Regions from separate parts of the Homo sapiens genome. Here region 2 is linked to region 1. Evidence: fine-mapped expression QTL. A gene starts in region 1. The other region holds a variant in brackets. All regions are shown on one strand. Distances are from middle to middle. Region 1 holds the start of LINC02918 (long intergenic non-protein coding RNA 2918). Region 2 holds the start of MIR6079 (microRNA 6079).

Evidence for each region. PIP is the estimated chance that this variant, and not a neighbour inherited with it, causes the effect.
Region 2: its variant is fine-mapped to the expression of LINC02918 in spinal cord (GTEx, PIP above 0.99).

The regions. Positions count from the first base shown.
Region 1 is chr1:43,936,901-43,947,161 of GRCh38, forward strand. LINC02918 (long intergenic non-protein coding RNA 2918) reads right to left here and starts at 3,641. Exons shown (of 2, transcript XR_947283.2): 1 at 3,330-3,641; 2 at 996-1,893. It overlaps ARTN (artemin), which reads left to right. Exons shown (of 5, transcript NM_057091.3): 5 at 1-340. It overlaps LOC101929609 (a long non-coding RNA gene), which reads right to left and starts at 9,699. Exons shown (of 2, transcript NR_188535.1): 1 at 9,581-9,699; 2 at 7,455-7,896. It overlaps IPO13 (importin 13), which reads left to right and starts at 10,050. Exons shown (of 20, transcript NM_014652.4): 1 at 10,050-10,261. RefSeq lists a silencer at 9,846-10,095.
Region 2 is chr1:43,836,798-43,844,797 of GRCh38, forward strand. It overlaps ST3GAL3 (ST3 beta-galactoside alpha-2,3-sialyltransferase 3), which reads left to right. Exons shown (of 12, transcript NM_006279.5): 5 at 1,422-1,514. MIR6079 (microRNA 6079) reads left to right here and starts at 1,825; the gene lies at 1,825-1,886. RefSeq lists enhancers at 3,885-4,873, 4,874-5,862. The variant G/A (reference allele first, on the strand shown) is at 3,324.

The DNA of each region.
Region 1 (10,261 bases):
GTGATGGATATCATCCCCGAACAGGTGAAGGGACAACTGACTAGCAGCCCCAGAGCCCTCACCCTGCGGATCCCAGCCTAAAAGACACCAGAGACCTCAGCTATGGAGCCCTTCGGACCCACTTCTCACAGACTCTGGCACTGGCCAGGCCTCGAACCTGGGACCCCTCCTCTGATGAACACTACAGTGGCTGAGGCATCAGCCCCCGCCCAGGCCCTGTAGGGACAGCATTTGAAGGACACATATTGCAGTTGCTTGGTTGAAAGTGCCTGTGCTGGAACTGGCCTGTACTCACTCATGGGAGCTGGCCCCTATTTATTATTTCTAAGTTATTTATTTACTTCTGTGGCTTGTCAGATCCTTTCCTGGGCAGCAGGGGGTTGGGAAGAAGAGGCTGGATGGAGATCATGCCTTGCTGATCGCACTCACACACCTCAGGCTGACTCAGCAATCACAGACCTGGCCTGGATCTTCGGCCCCCACCCAGCAGCTCCGGGATGGGAGGCATGGAACACAGGCAGGGGCAGGGCGGGCAGCAAGGGTGCAGTCACTAGTCCTGGCAGGCTGCTCACTTGGGCCTGGGCTTACCTCTGGGGAAAGAGACTACAGAGGCTTCTGTGGAGAAAGCCCTGTCTCTGTGACCTCTGGCATCTTTGTGGCCCCCGCTTAGTGGGTAAAGACACAGAGAAGCACCCATTGCCCCACCCCACTGTCATTGATCAGTGTCTTACCATCCAGGGAATTGTCTTGAGGGTGCCTTGTCAGATATACACATGCCTCTGCTTGCAGACAGGCCAGCATGGTTAACTCACTATCCACATTCCATGAAGCAGCCCAGGGCATGAGGGCATCTGAAAAAAACCGAGGGTTGGTAGAGGGTGCGGTGGGGTGCTGGCTCCGGTGAGCAAAGCACAGAGCTCCATGTGGATAAGGAGGCAGGAAAAGATAAGGGCCCCAGCAGGATCTGCATCTTGGGTGATGAACAAGGATATTCATTAATTCAAACAAATATTTATTAAGCACCTATTATATGTCAGATACTGATTATATGACAGATGCCAAGGATACAGAAGTGAAACAGACATGATCCCTGCCCTTGAGAAGCTTCAACCAGGAGAGACAGACAATAAGTAAGCAATTACAGTAATAATTATTTAAATTCAATTTGGCAAATGGTACGAAAAGGACAGGAAGCTAAGAAGTCCACACCTTCGTGGGGAAGAAAGGAGAAGTTACTGCTGACTCTGGCCTCTCATACCACCCCCAAGTCACCTCCAAAAGGCCAGGGCTATCCCTAAGCTTTTCTGGATATCCTTTCAAACCTTGTTTCCCATGTCCTATGCATTTGTATTGGGGAGGCCTCTATGATTTTTCTTTTTTGGAAATGAGATGGGGGCATGGATTTGGAAAGGATGCTAAGTCTGAGGAACTGTGGGACATCCAGAGGGGTTGTCAGGAGGCAGTGGGATCTGCTGGTCTAGAGCTGCCGAGGGAGGTCTGGGCTGGATTGATGTGACAGCTGTCAGCACAGAGGCAGGAGCTGCAGCCGGGGGTGAATGAGAGTACCATGAGAGATGGAGAGGGTCGAGGGCGAGATCCCTCAGGCATTTGACGCTGCTGAGAGAAATTCCTTCCAATCCGCCTGTGTGCCTTCCTGCTTTGGCACAGATGCCCCCTTCACCCAGGCTAGAGTGAGGAGCTGGCAAGAGCTCTCTGAAGGCTGTGCCCATTCTGGGTCAAGGAGGAGAAACGTGTGTGTGCTCCCACTCTTCTGCATTCACTGCCCCAGTTCTAGATGCTCCAAAAATTTCGATGCCTTTGCTCCCTTCAAACACCCTGTTGGCCCCTCTCTGCCTCCAAACGGATTCGGGATCCTTAGTTCCACCTTCCCTCCTGCAAAGAAAATGGCCCCAGGGCCATACAGTTTACAGAGGGCTGGCTGCAGGCAGAGAAGGACATTCTGTCAATTCCAGGGTTATTGGGGCCAGGCAGCCCCCTGCTAGTGAGACTTTAAAGCCTAGCCTAGTCCCCAAACCCTGCCACTCAGTAGACACGGCTGCTCCAGAGCCAGTAAAGGAGACTGACTGAAGCCATCTCTGACAATGCTCACAGTGAGAGGGCCACAGCCCAAGCCAAAGGTGCTGGCTGTCAACATTCCCCAGGCTGCCAGCTTTTGAGGGAACAGGGCTCACCCCAGCTGGAGGCTGCATTCTGGGCCCCAGACAGCTTGTGCTCAACATCTCAGAGTCCGGAACAAGACAGCAACAGCTCCAAGAACACATTCCCATATGAATTAGCCTCAGTTTGCAACTCAGGACAACCCAAATCAAAAGGAAGACAGTGAAGGAGGGAAGGAGGGGAGGGAAGGAAGGAGGGGAGGGAGGGAGGGAGGGGAGGGAGGGAAGGAGGGGAGGGAGGGAGGGGGAGGGAGGGAGAGAGGGAAGGAAGGAAGGGGAAAGAGAGAGAGAAAGCAAGAAGCAAGCAAGAAAGAAAAGGTTGTTTTCCCCAAAGGAAACAGGCTGCAGAGCTGTACCTCTGTTTACCACATAGTAGCTATAACCTGTCACCAGGTGGCACATTGTAGCTCCTGGGGCCACAGGTGACTCTGGTCAATACTAAAGCCAAAGGCCATTTAGTCCTTTGAAGTCTCAGAAGCATTCGATAGTGTCAGTCCTCCTTGAAAACCTGTCTTCCCGTGACTCTCTTGGTCCAATACTCTCCGGGTTCTCCTTCCACTCCTCCAGAGGCTTGTTCTCAGACGACTTCTGAGTTCCTCTTCCTCTCTCTGCCTCTCATGTTCCTCAGAGCTCTGATACCGACTCTCTCTCCTCTTCCCATTCTACTCTCTCCCTGAGCAGCACTGTCTACTCCCGTGGTTTCAGTTACCACCTCCATGCTAACCATGCTCACATTTTATCTCCAGCCTAGAACATTCACCTGAGCCCCAAGTCTGTAATTCCAATACCTCTATCTGTATATCCTGGGAGACATCAAGCTTAACATATCCATACTGGATGTCTTCCGTTTCCTCCTTCAGATCTGCTGTCCACCCTTCTCCAGCCTGCTCTGCTCCTCACATCAATGAGCTTCCCTGCTGTCCAGCTTCCAGACCCTCCCCAGTGTTCCCTGCTCAGTGAGTGCACCAACCTCATCCAGTGACACAGCCAGAAACTTGGGCAATCTCCTAGGCTCCTTAAGCTCTGTCATGTCCCTTAAGCATTGGTCACCAAATCCTTAGATCCTGCAGATCCATCCCCTTTCCCTATCCCCAGTGCTATTCTGCTGAAGCCTTCATAATTTTTTGGATGGTTTATTCCTCATCCTCCTACCTGGTCTCACTGTCTCCAGTCACAACTCCCTCCAACCATTCTCAGCGCTGCAGCCAGATAAGTTGCCTTCTCTTCATATTAACCGAGCATGAACTGTCGTGCACTGGGCTAGTTTCAGGGATTCAGAGACCAGTGAGAAACATGTTTTGCCATCAAGGAAACTATACTTGGAGATGGAAGTAGGGGTAGGGTAGCAAATAAAAGTAAAAGACATCCTGTTAAATTTGGATTTCAGGCCCTGCGTGGTGACTCATGCCTGTAATCCCAGCACTTTGGGAGGCTGAGGTGGGCGGATCATGAGGTCAAGAGAGTGAGACCACCCTAGCCAACATGGTAAAACCCGGTCTCTACTAAAAATATAAAAATTAGCTGGGCGTGGTGGCACGCACCTGTAGTCCCAGCTACTTGGGAGGCTGAGGCAGGAGAATCGCTTGAACCCGGGAGGCAGAGGTTGCAGTGAGCCAAGATTGTGCCACTGCACTCTAGCCTGGCGACAAAGTGAGACTCTGTCTCAAAAAAAAAAATGGATTTAAGGTAAACAATAAATACACCTTTTTTTTTTTTAGATAGGGTCTTGCTGTGTCCCTCGGGCTGGAGTGCAGTGGTGTGATCTCAGTTCACTGCAACCTCCACCTCCTGGGCTCAAGCGATCCTCTCACCTTAGCCTCCTAACTAGCTAAGACTACAGGTGCATTCTACCACGACTGGCTAATTTTTAAATTTTTTTAATTTTTATTTTTTTGGTAGAGATGGGCTCTTGCTATGTTACCCAGGCTGGTCTCGAACTCCTGAGTTCAAGAGATCCTCCCACATTGGCCTCCCAAAGTGCTCGGATTACAGGTGCGAGTCACCATGCCTGGCCTAAATACTTGTTTTCAGTATGTCCAATGCAATAATTGAGACATACTTATACAAAAAAATTGGCTGGGCGTGGTGGCTCACCCCTGTAATCCCAGCACTTTGGGAGGCTGAAACAGGTGGATCGCTAGCGCTCAGGAATTCAAGACCAGCCTGGGCAACATAGTGAAACCCTGTCTCTACCAAAAATACAAAAACTTAGCCAGGTGTGGTGACGTGCATCTGTGGTCCAGCTACTTGGGAGGCTGAGGTGGAAGGATTGCTTGAGCCCAAAATCGTACCACTGCACTCCAACCTGGGTGACAGAATAAGACTCTATCTCAAAAAAAAAAAAAAAAAAAAAAAAAGGCTGGGAGCAGTGGCTCACGCCTGTAATCCCAGCACTTTAGGAGGCCGAGGAGGGCAGATCACGAGGTCAGAAGATCGAGACCATCCTGGCTAACATGGTGAAACCCTGTCTCTACTAAAAATACAAAAAATTAGCTGGGCGTGGTGGTGGGCGCCTGTAGTCCCAGCTACTCAGGAGAATGGTGTGAACCTGGGAGGCAGAGCTTGCAGTGAGCTGAGATCGTGCCACTGCACTCCAGCCTAGGCGACAGAGTGAGACTCCATCTCAAAAAAAAAAAAATTGTTGTTTATCTCATATTCAAAATTAAATAGATGGCCAGGTGCGGTGGCTCATGCCTGTAATCCCAGCACTTTGGGAGGCCGAGGTGGGCGGATCACGAGGTCAAGAGTTTGAGACCAGCCTGGCCAATATGGTGAAACCCTGTCTCTACTAAAAATACAAAATTAGCCGGGGATGGTGGTGCACACCTGTAGTCCCAGTTACTCAGGAGGCAGAAGAATTGCTTGAACCTGGGAGGCAGAGGTTGCAGTGAGCCGTGACACTGAACTCTAGCCTGGGTGACAGAGCAAGACTCCATCTCAAAAAAAAAAAAAATAAATAAGTGTCCTGATTTTTTTCTGGCAACCCTAGGTAGGGGTAAACAAGTACCCCAGTAGAAGTATGACTGAGGTTATAGGTATGTGTGTCAAGGAGGGGGCAGATTCTACAATCACAAAGGAAGAGGAATCAGTTTTTTCCTGGATAGACGCAGAAGAGGAAAAGTCTTTGTGGAAAAGGTGGTATTTGAACTGAGTCTTGAAAAATGAGTTTGTTTGCACAGGGTGGATTATAGGGTGGATGAGAGGCATGGAACCCGAACTGGTTATTGCTGATTGCCTTTATTTCCTCTCACTTCTAAATGTACACTGTTCATTGTGGCCATGTCCTGTCCTGCACGGTGTGGTTCTCAGCCCTGGACAGGAATGGAGTGGAGAGGTGAGGGCCTCTTCCTTGGGCTCTCCATCTCAGCCTGAAGACTCTGCTAGTCCTATATTCTTTAGATTTTTATTTGTTTATTTATTTATTTATTTACTTCTTACTAGCCAGTTCATCACAGCTTCAATTCCCTGTTACACTTCAAAATGCTTATGTTGAACTTTCCCTGCCTGCTGACTGTGTGATGTCTCTCTCCTGATGGCATCCAGAATGACACAGAGCCTTCTCAACAGAGGAAGTAGCATGAACAAAGACAGGGAAGTGTGAAACAGCCTGGTGCGCTCCCAGGATTGCCAGCAACTTCAGGTGGACTTGGGGAGGGTCCTCATCAAGACAAAAGACTGGAGAGGTCACAAAGGGCTTTGAATGTTATACCGAGAAGCTCAGCCTTCGCTCTGAAAGGAGCCACTAAAGGGTTTTAAGTGGGCTTGGTTAGAGATGTGTTTCAGATGGATCACTTGCTACTGTGTCTAGTATGGATGGAAGAGGCAAGGTGGGTGCCAGCTAGAGCTGCCATAGTTAGAGCCGTTCAGGCAACAAGCACAGGTACCTTGAGTTAGGGCAGAAGCAAATGTGCAAGGACAGAAGAGATGTGAGGGACAATAAGAGAGGTGAGGGCTGGATGAGAGATGGTTTCCAGGTGTCTAGCTTGGGGGACTGGTACAGAACACAGGGGATGTAGTATTTTAGCATGTGATAGGGGTAAGATGTGGGGAAAATGTGAGTTCAGTTTTGTACATGTTCAACTTTGGGTGCCTGTGGCAACTTCAGAGGGCCAGGAGGCAGCTAAATATGCAGGTTTGAAACCCAGGACAGTCTGGGCTGGAGAAATCCAAGGAGTCACAGCTTGAAGCCAGGGGAGTGGTGAGATAATGAGGCATAAGACAAGAAGCGGAGACTAAGGAGGACCAACATTTAAGGAACAGGTGGAGGAACAGGGATGGGCCAGTGAAGGAAACCAAAAAGGAGTAGTCAGAGTGTCGGGAAAAACAAAACCAAACAGAAGAGCTGAGGGACTGGTCAATAGGGCCAGATGCAGCACAAAAATCAAGCTGCATCAGAACCGAAAACTGCCCGTTAGGTTTTCTTGCAACATGGTGGCCTAAGGACTTGGGCTAAACTTCCTCCTGAAAACAACTTTAAATACTAGACTCTATCTATCTTTAAAATTAAATGCATCCATAAGCTAGCAAAAATGTAAGAAACACACTGAGGCCAAAAAAGTAAATGAAAGCAAGAAGCTACAAAGGTAAGCAAAGCTCTGTCATTGGCTTTCATCTTGAGGGCAGTTGCCGAACCCAGAGAACCTGATCATTGGTTTTCAAGGGGTCTCTGGGCTTATGAGAAAGACAAAGCCCAGGGCCCCCTCACCATGGGGAGTCTATTTAGAAACTTCTCCATAAGGCCAGGACCTCAAAGGCCAGTGTATGCCTACACTGTGAAGGTGAATTAGAAAGAAACCTGCCCCTGTCTGACCTAACCTCTCTCCCTCAAACCAGGGGACTACAAAGAAAACTGCCTACATCCAACCTTGGTACTAAGAAAGGGGAATAATCTCCCCCTGAGAATTCTTTTTTTTCTTCTTCTTCTTTTTTTTTTTTTTTTGAGACAGAGTCTCGCTCTGTTGCCCAGGCTGGAGTGCAATGGCGCGATCTCAGCTCACTGCAACCTCCACCTTCCAGGTCCAAGAGATTCTCCTGCCTCAGCTTCCCAAGTAGCCGGGACTACAGGTGCCCGCCACCACACCAGGCTAACTTTTGTATTTTTAGTAGAGACAGGGTTTCACCGTGTTAGCCAGGCTGGTCTCGAACTCCTGACCTCGTGATCCACCCACCTCAGCCTCCCAAAGTGCTGGTGGCATGAGCCACTGCGCCCGGCCTCCCGCTGAGAATTCTTAACTGCAAGCAGGCAGTCGTCTGGTTTTGCAGACCAAATTCACATGATTTTGGTAGGCTGAAAAACTTCAAAGTGATCATTTAATTTGACATGAACATGGATTGGTAGTGGTTCCAGGTGACCAACAAAAGCTCCCTCTCCTCCTCTGCTGAGTTTTGGGATGTTCCCTCCTGAATCTGCAGACCTCTCCCAGGGTTGCCACAGGTTCTTGCCCCTATAGGTCTACACTTGTTCCTTAGAGAAGAAAGAGCCCTTCTGGCTCCCAAAGACTTATCTGCCACTTGGCTCTGAGCTATCCTGCACTAACATCCAAATCTCCTGGAGATCACCTTTGGTCTGGCCTCCGGAAATGCCCCCAACTCTCCCCAGGGCCTACTTCAGTCCATCTGTCCTAAATAGTGTTTGCAAAGGATGTTCAGGAGTCATTGCTGTGAGACTGGGCTTCTTTCTCTGCCAGATCCCTGGAACCTCCAGGGATGAGGAGGAGCCCTGGATGGGAAGCAGGAAGAAAACACATACTGACTAAGTTGTGGTCTCTGGGCTGAGCCCCCCACCCCTAAAACCCCTTAACTAAAATGAGTTTCAGAAGAAGCTAAGGTCTCATTGCTAGAAAGAGGCATAAACAGGTTTTGAACTCAGGACTAAGTCCAGAATTTGTGCATTTAAACCCCACTCCCAACACCATCTCCCCTGCCCACCACCACCTCCACCAGTGAAACCGCCAGCCAGCACCAGGCCCAAGGTATTTCACACCCTAGGCACAGGCCTGGAATCAGTTACTTTATTTTGGCTTTCTATTTCCTCCTTCCAAATGTCTCCTGCCTCTCTTTCTTCCTTCAATTTGTCTTTCATGTTGCAGATTTTTCTAAAATGCAAATGTAATCATCATTGCTCACTTGAAACCCCATCATGGTTTCATATTGCACTTAGGATAATGTCCAAACTCCTACAAGAATCTATTGCCACCAACTTGTCTTTCCAACCTCATCTCTGTTACTCATACCCTTCCCCTTCCCCACCCCACATATATTCTCTTAAAATGAATATAAATTACTTACTATTCTTTCTTTTCTTTTCTTTTTTTTTTTTAGACGGAGTCTCACTCTGTCGCCCAGGCTGGAGTGCAGTGGCGTGATCTCAGCTCACTGCAAGCTCCACCTCCCGTGTTCAAGCCATTCTCCTGCCTCAGCCTCCCGAATAGCTGGGACTACAGGTGCCTGCCACCATGCCCGGCTAATTTTTTGTATTTTTAGTAGAGACGGGGTTTCACCGTGTTAGCCAGGATGGTCTCGATCTCCTGACCTCGTGATCCGCCCGCCTCAGCCTCCCATAGTGCTGGGATTACAGGCGTGAGCCACCGCGCCCGGCCTACTTGCTATTCTTTATTGATGAAGACTTGCTGAATGACTTAGAGTCCTACTGGATTTTGCTTACCAGCTAAATGGGCCCCTCTCCTTCCCAGGCTCTCTATTCTTCAAGCTCAGATCAAGTTTCTCTTCTCAGGGAAGCCTTCATGGACCTTCTCAGGCCTCAGCAGCTGCTGCCAATGCCAGCTTCCAATGCCAGCTTCCTCCATTTGAACAAAACTACGGAGCTCTTTGCACTTTTAATTTTTTCCTCTTCCCTGCTAGGGTAGCTGGCAGGAGTTAATAAACAATAAAATACAACTGGAGGGGTGACAGGCAGGAACTACCGGGGCCTGTGGCAGACCAGATCTATGGCATGGTCTGCCACCCTGTCTGTGTGCCAGGGGCAAGATAAGCCTAACTTTCCCCAAGCTCGATTTCCTCATCTCATCTGAAAATGATGAATAAAAATATCCACCTCAGAGCTATTAAGAAAACTGAACCTAAGGTAAGCAAAGTCCTGCTCCTAGCACTTAAATGTAAGCTACTCTTACTCTAGTTACACATAAAGTTACTTCCAAAAACCTTACGAAATTCCCCGAGCACTGTCCATGGTATGTGGTTTCCCGGTTGCTTATTGGGTGGTCCCGAGAGCCTTCCTTTTTTCCTTCCTGAGGCGTGCCAAGTCCCCTCTCCTCTTCTCTGGGTGGTGCTGACGCCTTCTTCCCAGGCTGCACCTTTGCTGGGCCGGAGGATGCCCCCGGCAGCGGAGCGCCAGAGTGACCAGGCAACCTCCCCAGCCTCCACCCTCTAGCCCGGGCTCCCACCTCCGTCCTCCGGCCCCTCGAGTCACGTCGTCCTACTAAGGAGTTGGGCCGCAGCGCCCCGCGCCGGTCTGACCCGGAATGCCTGCTCGCCGCGGTAGGCCGAGGACAGGCGGGGCTCTGCAGGTCCCCAACCCACGTGCTCCCGGCCTCCTCCGCAGGGCGCCGCCTTCCGGCTAGGCGCAACACGGACTACATTTCCCAGGGTGAACAGCGGCGGGGCCTAGACTCGGCCGCGGCCTGGGGCGGCGAGCCGCTCCACCGCCTGCTCAGGGGAGTGCGAGCTGGCGCGAGGACAGGGCTAAGGACCCGGAATGAGTTTCCGCGCAGTTCCGCTGGGCCGTGCCGGCCTGTACCGGGCCGTGCCGAGCCAGAACTGGCAGGAGTGGGGGCCTGAGTTGGAGGTGCCGGGGACAGGCGCTCGGGGCAGCCCGCGCCTTGCCGAGGTCCCTGCCCCGTCCCGGCCGGCCTGGCTTGTCTTGTCAGTCACTGGGGCGGAGGCAGCGGCTGTAGCGGGGCTGTAGCCGGGCGTTGAGCACAGCGCGGGCCAGGCCGAACGGAAGGGACCTGCCACAGCCCCTCAACTCCACGGACTCTTCGCCCTAGACTAGCGGAGCTGCATCTCCGCGCTTCGTTGGACGCCTCCGTAACCACGAAGGGCTCTCTCTCTCCCGTGACCCTCCA
Region 2 (8,000 bases), 100 kb before region 1:
TAGACTGCATAGTGCAGAGATTTTGGTGGCAGGGCAGTGACTCCAGACCCACATTGAACGCATAAGACGTTGAAACCCAAAGATGTGAGGTGGCATGATTATGGTCACACAGCAACAGGCCAGGATTAGAACACAAGTCTTCTGAAAAATATGTAGCAGTCTCAGCCTTGTGGGTTCCTTGAGATTGCCTTGTCTGCCGTGAGACTGTCAGGGTCATTTTGTTCCTTAAGAAAGTTTTAGGGGTCTTCTTTGTGCCCATTTATGCAAGGCACTGGAGAGGGTAGGCAGGGTTAAATCAGCCTCTGACCTTAGGAATTTACAGTGTATCAAGGGAGACATACTACCAAAAATTACAATACAGAATAGCAAGTGCTGGGGGTAAGTATATGATGTGAGGGGAAGGGGGAGTGACTATACAAGCACAGAGGAGGCACTTAGCCCAATCCGAGGGTCAGGGAATCACTCCCAGTGAAGCTGATATTTAAGCTTAATCATGAAGGACCAATAGTTGTTAGCCAGATGAAGAAGGACAAGGAATAACATTCCAGGCAGAGAGAGGAAACCATCCTCAACTAAAAGTCTAATGGTTATGTCAGTAGCCCCAGTGACATAATTTATCGTGTCTATATTCGGTCACTGTTCGGGACAGTTCCCACTACTGGGGAATGGTTCCCACTGGATGGATCATAGCCTGAGTGGAGAGAATAAAAGCAGATGAGGCTGGCCATGTAGGAACATACAAGGAAGGTGGAAAGGCCAGGGGCTCTGAGTATCAAAGCCTGAGTAGCTGTATTCTATGAACTCCAAGCACCACTCCCCCGGGTATTGGAGCCTTGATAGAGCTCCTCGTTTCCTTGGTTTCAGGCTTCCTGCAAAGAATTATGAGTTTGAGCTGGGCACAGTGGCTCAATGCCTGTAATCCCAACACTTTGGGAGGCCAAGGCGAGAGGATCGCTTGAACTCAGGAGTTTAAGACCTGCCTGGGCAACATAATGAAACCCTGTCTCTTAAAAAGAAATCTGTGAGAATCCAGTTAAGTTCCTTTTACAGATACCATCCAGGGGCCTGACTTATTTATCTATCTATTCCTTTAGGGTTGGGGATTTGTTTTGTTTTTACCCTTAAAGCCTTAATGTGGAAAAGTGCCTGAAGTGCTGATTGTAGGGAATGAAACTTGATTCAAGGTTTAAACACCTTATCCCAGCCACTCGGGAGGCTGAGGCAGGAGAATGGCGTGAACCCGGGAGGCGGAGCTTGCAGTGAGCCGAGATTGCGCCACTGCACTCCAGCCTGGGCAACAGAACGAGACTCCGTCTCAAAAAAAAAAAAAAAAGGGTTAAACACCTACAGCTCCTTATGAATTAATAACCCACTCAGTGCTCAGTGCCTGGCAAGCTGTAACTTTCCTTCTCTTCCCATAGGCCTGCTGAATTAGCCACCAAGTACGCAAACTTTTCAGAGGGAGCTTGCAAGCCTGGCTATGCTTCAGCCTTGATGACGGCCATCTTCCCCCGGTAAGTGCTCCTGTTTCCCTCCACTGCCTAGACAGCCTGGTCTGGGGTCCAAGAGCCAGAAACTCTGCCTCTCACAGCCAGTCATGTTCTCCTATGCTCTGGAAACCATGGGTTCCTGGAAAGGACTCTGCCTTTAAGTTGGTTCCTACTCCAGTCCTACTCCATGCCGTTGCTTTGCCTTACTCCCATCCTGCCTCTGGAGCTTGCACCTTGTGGCACAGCCTGTTTCTGCAGAAGGATAACCTACATGGTTGCCGCATGCAAGCCAGGTATCCAGAGGCAGCCAGAGAAGGCTGCCAAGCACAGAAGCTCCTAGACCTAGTATCAGTGGCCAAAGAAACTTTTTTGGAAGCTTGGACCAACTAGCTGGCTTCAGGGAGGCATATCCAAATAAAGCAGGGAACAAAGAGAAATTTCTGAGGCTGTCTTGAGTTTTAGCACTTTCCTTCTCTGTCCATTTTGCATTCTGGAGCTGCTGACTTCTTTGGCACCTGAAAGAATCTGTGCATAACCCAGGGAGTTCCTTTTACCGAATGCTGCTAAGGGGTCTTGCTTACTGATCCACCTTCTCCTTTTTGGTTTTCTTTTCTGAAGCCTTGGTGTGGAAAAGGAGCTGAAGTGCTGAGATTGTCTTTGGAGTGCAGTGAGACTGTCAGGGTCATTTCGTTCCTTCTGATTTGGAGGGGCTGAAGGAAAGGCTGCCTAGGATTGTCTGGGCACTTGGACCACCAGAGGAGTGCTAGGGGTGGGCTCTGCTCACTGGGGGAAGGACTTGCCTCCCATCCCTTAGAAGGCTGAGGTTAGGACACGTAATGTGCTTGCAAAGGAATGCTGAGAAACAGCTCGCCCCAAAGTGACTCCGGTATATTTGGTTTTTATGCTCCCTTTCTTTTCTAACGTGAGCAGTCTCAGCTTAGCTCCTTGTGTAAAGCAAGGGCTATGCTGGCTGAGTATCTGGTGCTCAGATAGAGATCTCTTTGTCCAGGGTCTGCCTTCTGAATTGATTCCAAATATTTTGCTTCCTCCAGCTATTTATTGAGTGCCCCTGTGTCTGGCTTTTTGTGTTCTGTATTCTTAACACAGGTTTTTGCAAGCCTATACGACTCAGTCCTTAGCCCAGACACTTGTGAGTTTTCCTTTACCAGTATATAGGTTTCGTTTGCTTTTTCTAATTGAAAGTAATACAGGCATGTGGAAACAAAACAAAACAAAAAAACCTCAAACAGTACAAAAGGTTATATACTGCCACTCCAGACTCCTTCCCCAGAGACAGCCAATATTACCAAAAGTGGGAACATAACTGTATTTAATATTCTGTACTGTGTATTAGGCCGTTCTTGCATGTCTATGAAAAAACATCTGAGACTGGGCAAATTGTAAAGAAAAGAGGTTTAATTGGCTTATGGTTCATCAGGCTTTACAGGAAGTATGGTGCTGGCACCTGCTTCACTTCTAGGAAGGCCTCAGGAAACTTAAAATCATGCCAGAAAGCAAAGGGGGAGCAGGCACGTCATATGGCAAAAGCAGGAGCAAGTGAGTGAAGGAGAGAGAAAGAGAGGAAGTGCTACGCACTTTTAAACAACCAGATCTCACAAGAATTCACTCATTTTCACAAGAACAGCACCAGGGGGATGGTGCTAAGTCATTCATGAGAGACCACCGCCATGATCCAGTCACCTACCACCAGGCCCCATTGGAGATTACATTTTTTTCCCTTCCTTTTTTTTTTTTTTTTGAGACAGGGTCTTGCGGTGTTGCCCAGGCTGGAGTGCAGTGGTGCGATCTTGGCTCACTGCAGCCTTGACCTCC[G/A]GGCTCAAGCAATTAGCCACCTCAGCCTCCCAAGTAGTTGGGACTCCAGGCGCATGCAACCACACGTGGCTAATTTTTGTATTTCTGGTAGAGGTGGGGTTTTGCCATGTTGCCCAGGCTGGTCTCAAATTCCTGGGCTCAAGCGATCCACCCACCTTGGCCTCCCAAAGTGCTGGGATTACAAGTTTGAGCCACTGAGCCTGTCTGGGGATTACCTTTCAACATCAGATTTGGGCAGGGACAAATATTCAAACTGTATCATTTTGTCCCTGGCCTCCACAAATCTTATGTCCTTCTCACATTTCAACATACAGTCATCCCTTCTCAATAGTCCCTGCGAAATCTTAACTCATTCTAGCATTAACTCAAAAGTCCTACTGTGGTCCTGTGATCTCGCCCTGCTTCCACTTGCCTTGTGATATTCTATTACCCTGTTAAGTACCTGATGTCTGTCACCCACACCTATTTGCACACTCCCTCCCCTTTTGAAAATCCCTAATAAAAACTTGCTGGTTTTTGTGGCTTGTGGGGCATCACGGATCCTACCAACGTGTGATGTCTCCCCCGGATGCCCAGCTTTAAAATTTCTCTCTTTTGTACTCCGTCCCTTTATTTCTCAAGCTGGCCGACGCTTAGGAAAAATAGAAAAGAACCTACGTGATTATCAGGGCAGGTCCCCTGATACTAAGTCCCAAATCTAAATTCTTATCTGGAAATGAGTTCCTTTCACCTATGAGACTGTAAAATCAAAACAAGTTGCTTACTTTCGAGATACAATGGGGGTATAGGCATTGGGTAAACATCCCATTCCAAAAAGGGGTAATCAGCCATAAGAAAGGGGCTATACGCCCCATGCAAGTTTGAAACCCAGCAAGGCAGTCATTAAATCTTAAAGCTCCAAAATTATCTCTTTTGACTCTGTGCCCCACATTCAGGGCACACTGGTGCAAGAAGTGGGCCCCCAAGATCTTGGGCAGCTCCGCCCCTGTGGCTTTGCAGGGTGCAGCCCCTGTGGCTGCTCTCATGGGCTGGCGTTGAGTGCCTGAGGCTTTTTCAGGTGCAGGGTGTAAACTGCTGGTGGATCTACCATTCTGGGGACTAGAGGATGGTGGCCCCCTTCTCACAGCTCCACAAGGCAGTGTCCCAGTGGGGACCCTGTGTGAAGGCTCCAATCCCATGTTTCCCCTCCACACTGCCCTAGTAGAGGTTTTCTGTGAGGGCTCCACTCCTGCAGCAGGCTTTTGCTTGGGAAGCCAAGCTTTTCCATACATCCTCTGAAATCTAGGTGGAAGCATCCAAGAATCCTCCATTCTTGCACTCTGTGCACTCTTAATACCACATGGAAGCTGTCAAAGTTTACAGCTTGCATTCTTCAAAGTGGCAGCCTGAGCTGTACCTTGCCCTTTTTGAGACATGGCTAGAGCTGGAGCCGCCAGAATGTGGGGAGCAGTGTCCTGAAGTTGCATAGGGGTGAGGCCCTGGGCCTGACCCATGAAACCATTTTTGTCTCCTGGGCCTCAGGAACTATGATGGAAGGGGCTACCTCAATAATCTCTAAAATGCCTTTGAGGCTTTTTCCCTATTGTCTTAGATATTAGCATTTGGCTCTTTTTTAGTTATGCAAATGTCTCTAGCAAGTGGTTACTCCACAGCCTGCTTGAATTCCTCTTCTGAAAAAGCTTTTTCTTTCTTTGCCATGTGGCTTGGCTGCAAATTTTCCCAATTTTTATGCTCTGCTTCCCTTTTAAATATAAATTCCAACTTTAAGTCATTTACTTGCACCTGTATCTGAGTGTAAGCTGTTAGGAGCAGCCAGTCATATCTTGAATGCTTTGCTGCTTAGAAATTTCTTCTGCCAAATATGCAATCATCACTCTCAACTTCAAACTTCCACAGATTCCTTGGGAAAGGGCACAATGCAACCAAGCTGTTTGCTAAGGCATAACATGTTATGACCTTTGCTCCATTTCCCAATGAGTTCCTCATTTCAATCTGAGACCTTGTTGGCCTAGATTTCATTGGCCATATCCCTATCAACATTTTGGTTACAACCATTTAACCAGTCTCTAAGAAGTTCCAAACTTGCTCTCATCTTCCTGTCTTCTTGTGAGCCCTCCAAACTCTTCCAACCTCTATCCATTACCCGGTTCCGAAGTCACTTCCACATTTTTAGATATCTTTCTAACAATACCCTACTCCTGGTACCAATTTTATGTATTAGGCCATTCTTGCATTGCTACAAAAAAAAAATCTGAGCTCTCCATTTGCCTTCTGCCATGATTGTAAGCTTTCTGATGCCTCCCTAGGAGGTAAGCAGATGCCAGCACCACTCTTCCTGCAGAACTGTGAGCCAATTAAACCTCTTTTCTTTATAATTTACCCAGTCTCAGATATTTTTTTTAGAGGCCGGGCATGGTGGCTCACACCTGTAATCCCAGCACTTTGGGAGGATGAGGCGGGCGGATCACGAGGTCAGGGGATCAAGACCATCCTGGCTGACATGGTGAAACCCCGTCTCTACTAAAAATACAAAAAATTAGCTGGGCGTGGTGGTGTACACCTGTAGTCCCATCTACTTGGGAGGCTGAGGCAGGAGAATCGCTTTAACTTGGGAGGCGAAGGTTGTAATGAGCCGAGATCACGCCACTGCACTCTACACAAAGCAAGACTCCATCTCAAAAAAAAAAAAAAAAAAAAAGTTTACATTCACTTTTTGCACATGGATGTTCAGTTGTTCCAGAACCATTTGTTAAAGACTCTGCTTTCTCCATTGAATTACCTTGGCATGTTTGTTGAAAATCAGTTGAACATGTATGTGTAGGTCTCCTTCTGGACTCCCTAGTCTATTCTGTTGATTTATGACTTTGTGCCAGTACCATTCATACATGGACAGTCTTGTCGTCTGTTACTAAAGACAGTTTTATTTCTTCCTTTTTCATCTATATGTCTCATTCCTTTTTCTTGCCTTACTGCATTGGCTAGACTGTTCAGTGCAGTATTAAATAGGTGAGGTGAGAGTGAACAGCCTTGCCTGTTCCCAGTCTTAGGAGGAAAAGATCTAGTCTTTCACCATTATGGTGTTAGCTGTAGGTTTTTCATAGATACCATTTTTTAGGTAGAGGAAGTTCTCTTCTGTTCCTAGTTTCTTGAGAGTGTTTATCATGAATAGATGTTGAATTTTGTCAAATGCTTTTTCTGCATATTTTGAGAAGATCATATGGCTTTTCTTTTTTAGTCTATTAATATGATGAATTACATTGATTGGTTTTTTCTCATTAATTGATTTTTGAATGTTGAACCAATCTTTCATTTGTAGGATAAACTTCATTTGGTCTTGGTGTATTGTTCTTTTTACACATTGCTCTATTCAATTGGCTAAAATTTTTCAAGGATTTTTGTGTCTTTGGTCATGAAAGATACTGGTCTGTAGTTTTCTTGTGATGTCTTTAGTTTTGGTAATATAGTAATGCTGGCTTCAGAATAAGTGGGAAAATATTTCTTCATCTTTCTACAAATTTTGTGTACAATTGGTAATATTTTTTATGAAATGTTTGATAGAATTCACCAGCAAAATCTAGGCTTGTCTGAAGAAAAGACAGTTTTTTATCTCTATTCTCATGCGCCACTGAACACACTTCTGACACCAGATGTGTGGCAGTTTTTCTCACACATCAAGCAATTCTTCAGCAGACACTAATGGGTGTCCTATAATTCAATTCAATTCTGGCATTATCCACCTGGAGATGGCGTCAGATCCCACAGGTTGACGGCCGAACAAGACTATACCTCACTTCAGATGCTAATCACAAGTAGTAGGTTGTTACCTATACATCTCGCCAACCAGCTATAAGTTGTGAATTCCAAGACCATCCCCTCTTGGGTTTGATCTGTTTGCTAGAGCAGCTCACAGAATTCAGGGAAACTTATGTTTATCCATTTATTATAAAGGATATCATAAAGGATACGGATGAACAGCCAGTTGGAAGAGATGCATAGGGCATGGCATGTGGTAAGTGGTTCACAAGTCTGAAAGCTCTCTGAACCTTGTCCTTTTGGGTTTTTATGGAGGCTTCTATAAACCCTGTGGAGGATTACATAGGCATGATTCATTGCATCATTGACCACTGGTGATCAAATCAACCTTCAGCCCTTTTCCCATCCCCGAGGTCAGAGGGTGAGACTGAAAGTTCCAGCCCTCTAATTGCATAGTTGGTTCCCCTGCCAACCAGCACCCAACATAAGGCTATCCAGAAGTCATCTCATGAGAACAAAAGATATTCCTATCACCCAGGAAATTTGAAGGAATTTAGCAGCTCTCTGTCAGATGTGCTCTTATCAGTCAGGAAATTACAAAGGTCTTAAGAGCTCTGGGTCAGAAACTAGGGTCAGAGACTAGACTAACTATTGGTGGCCGGGCACGGTGGCTTACGCCTGTAATCGCAGCACTTTGGGAGGCCGAGGAGGGTGGATCATGAGGTCAGGAGATCAAGACCATTCTGGCTAACACGGTGAAACCCCGTCTCTACCAAAAATAAAAAAAAATTAGCCGGGCGTGGTGGCGGGCACTACGGTGGCGGGCGCCTGTAGTCCCAGCTACTCTGGAGGCTGAGGCAGGAGAATGGCGTGAACCCGGGAGGCAGAGCTTGCAGTGAGCCAAGATCGTGCCACTGCACTCCA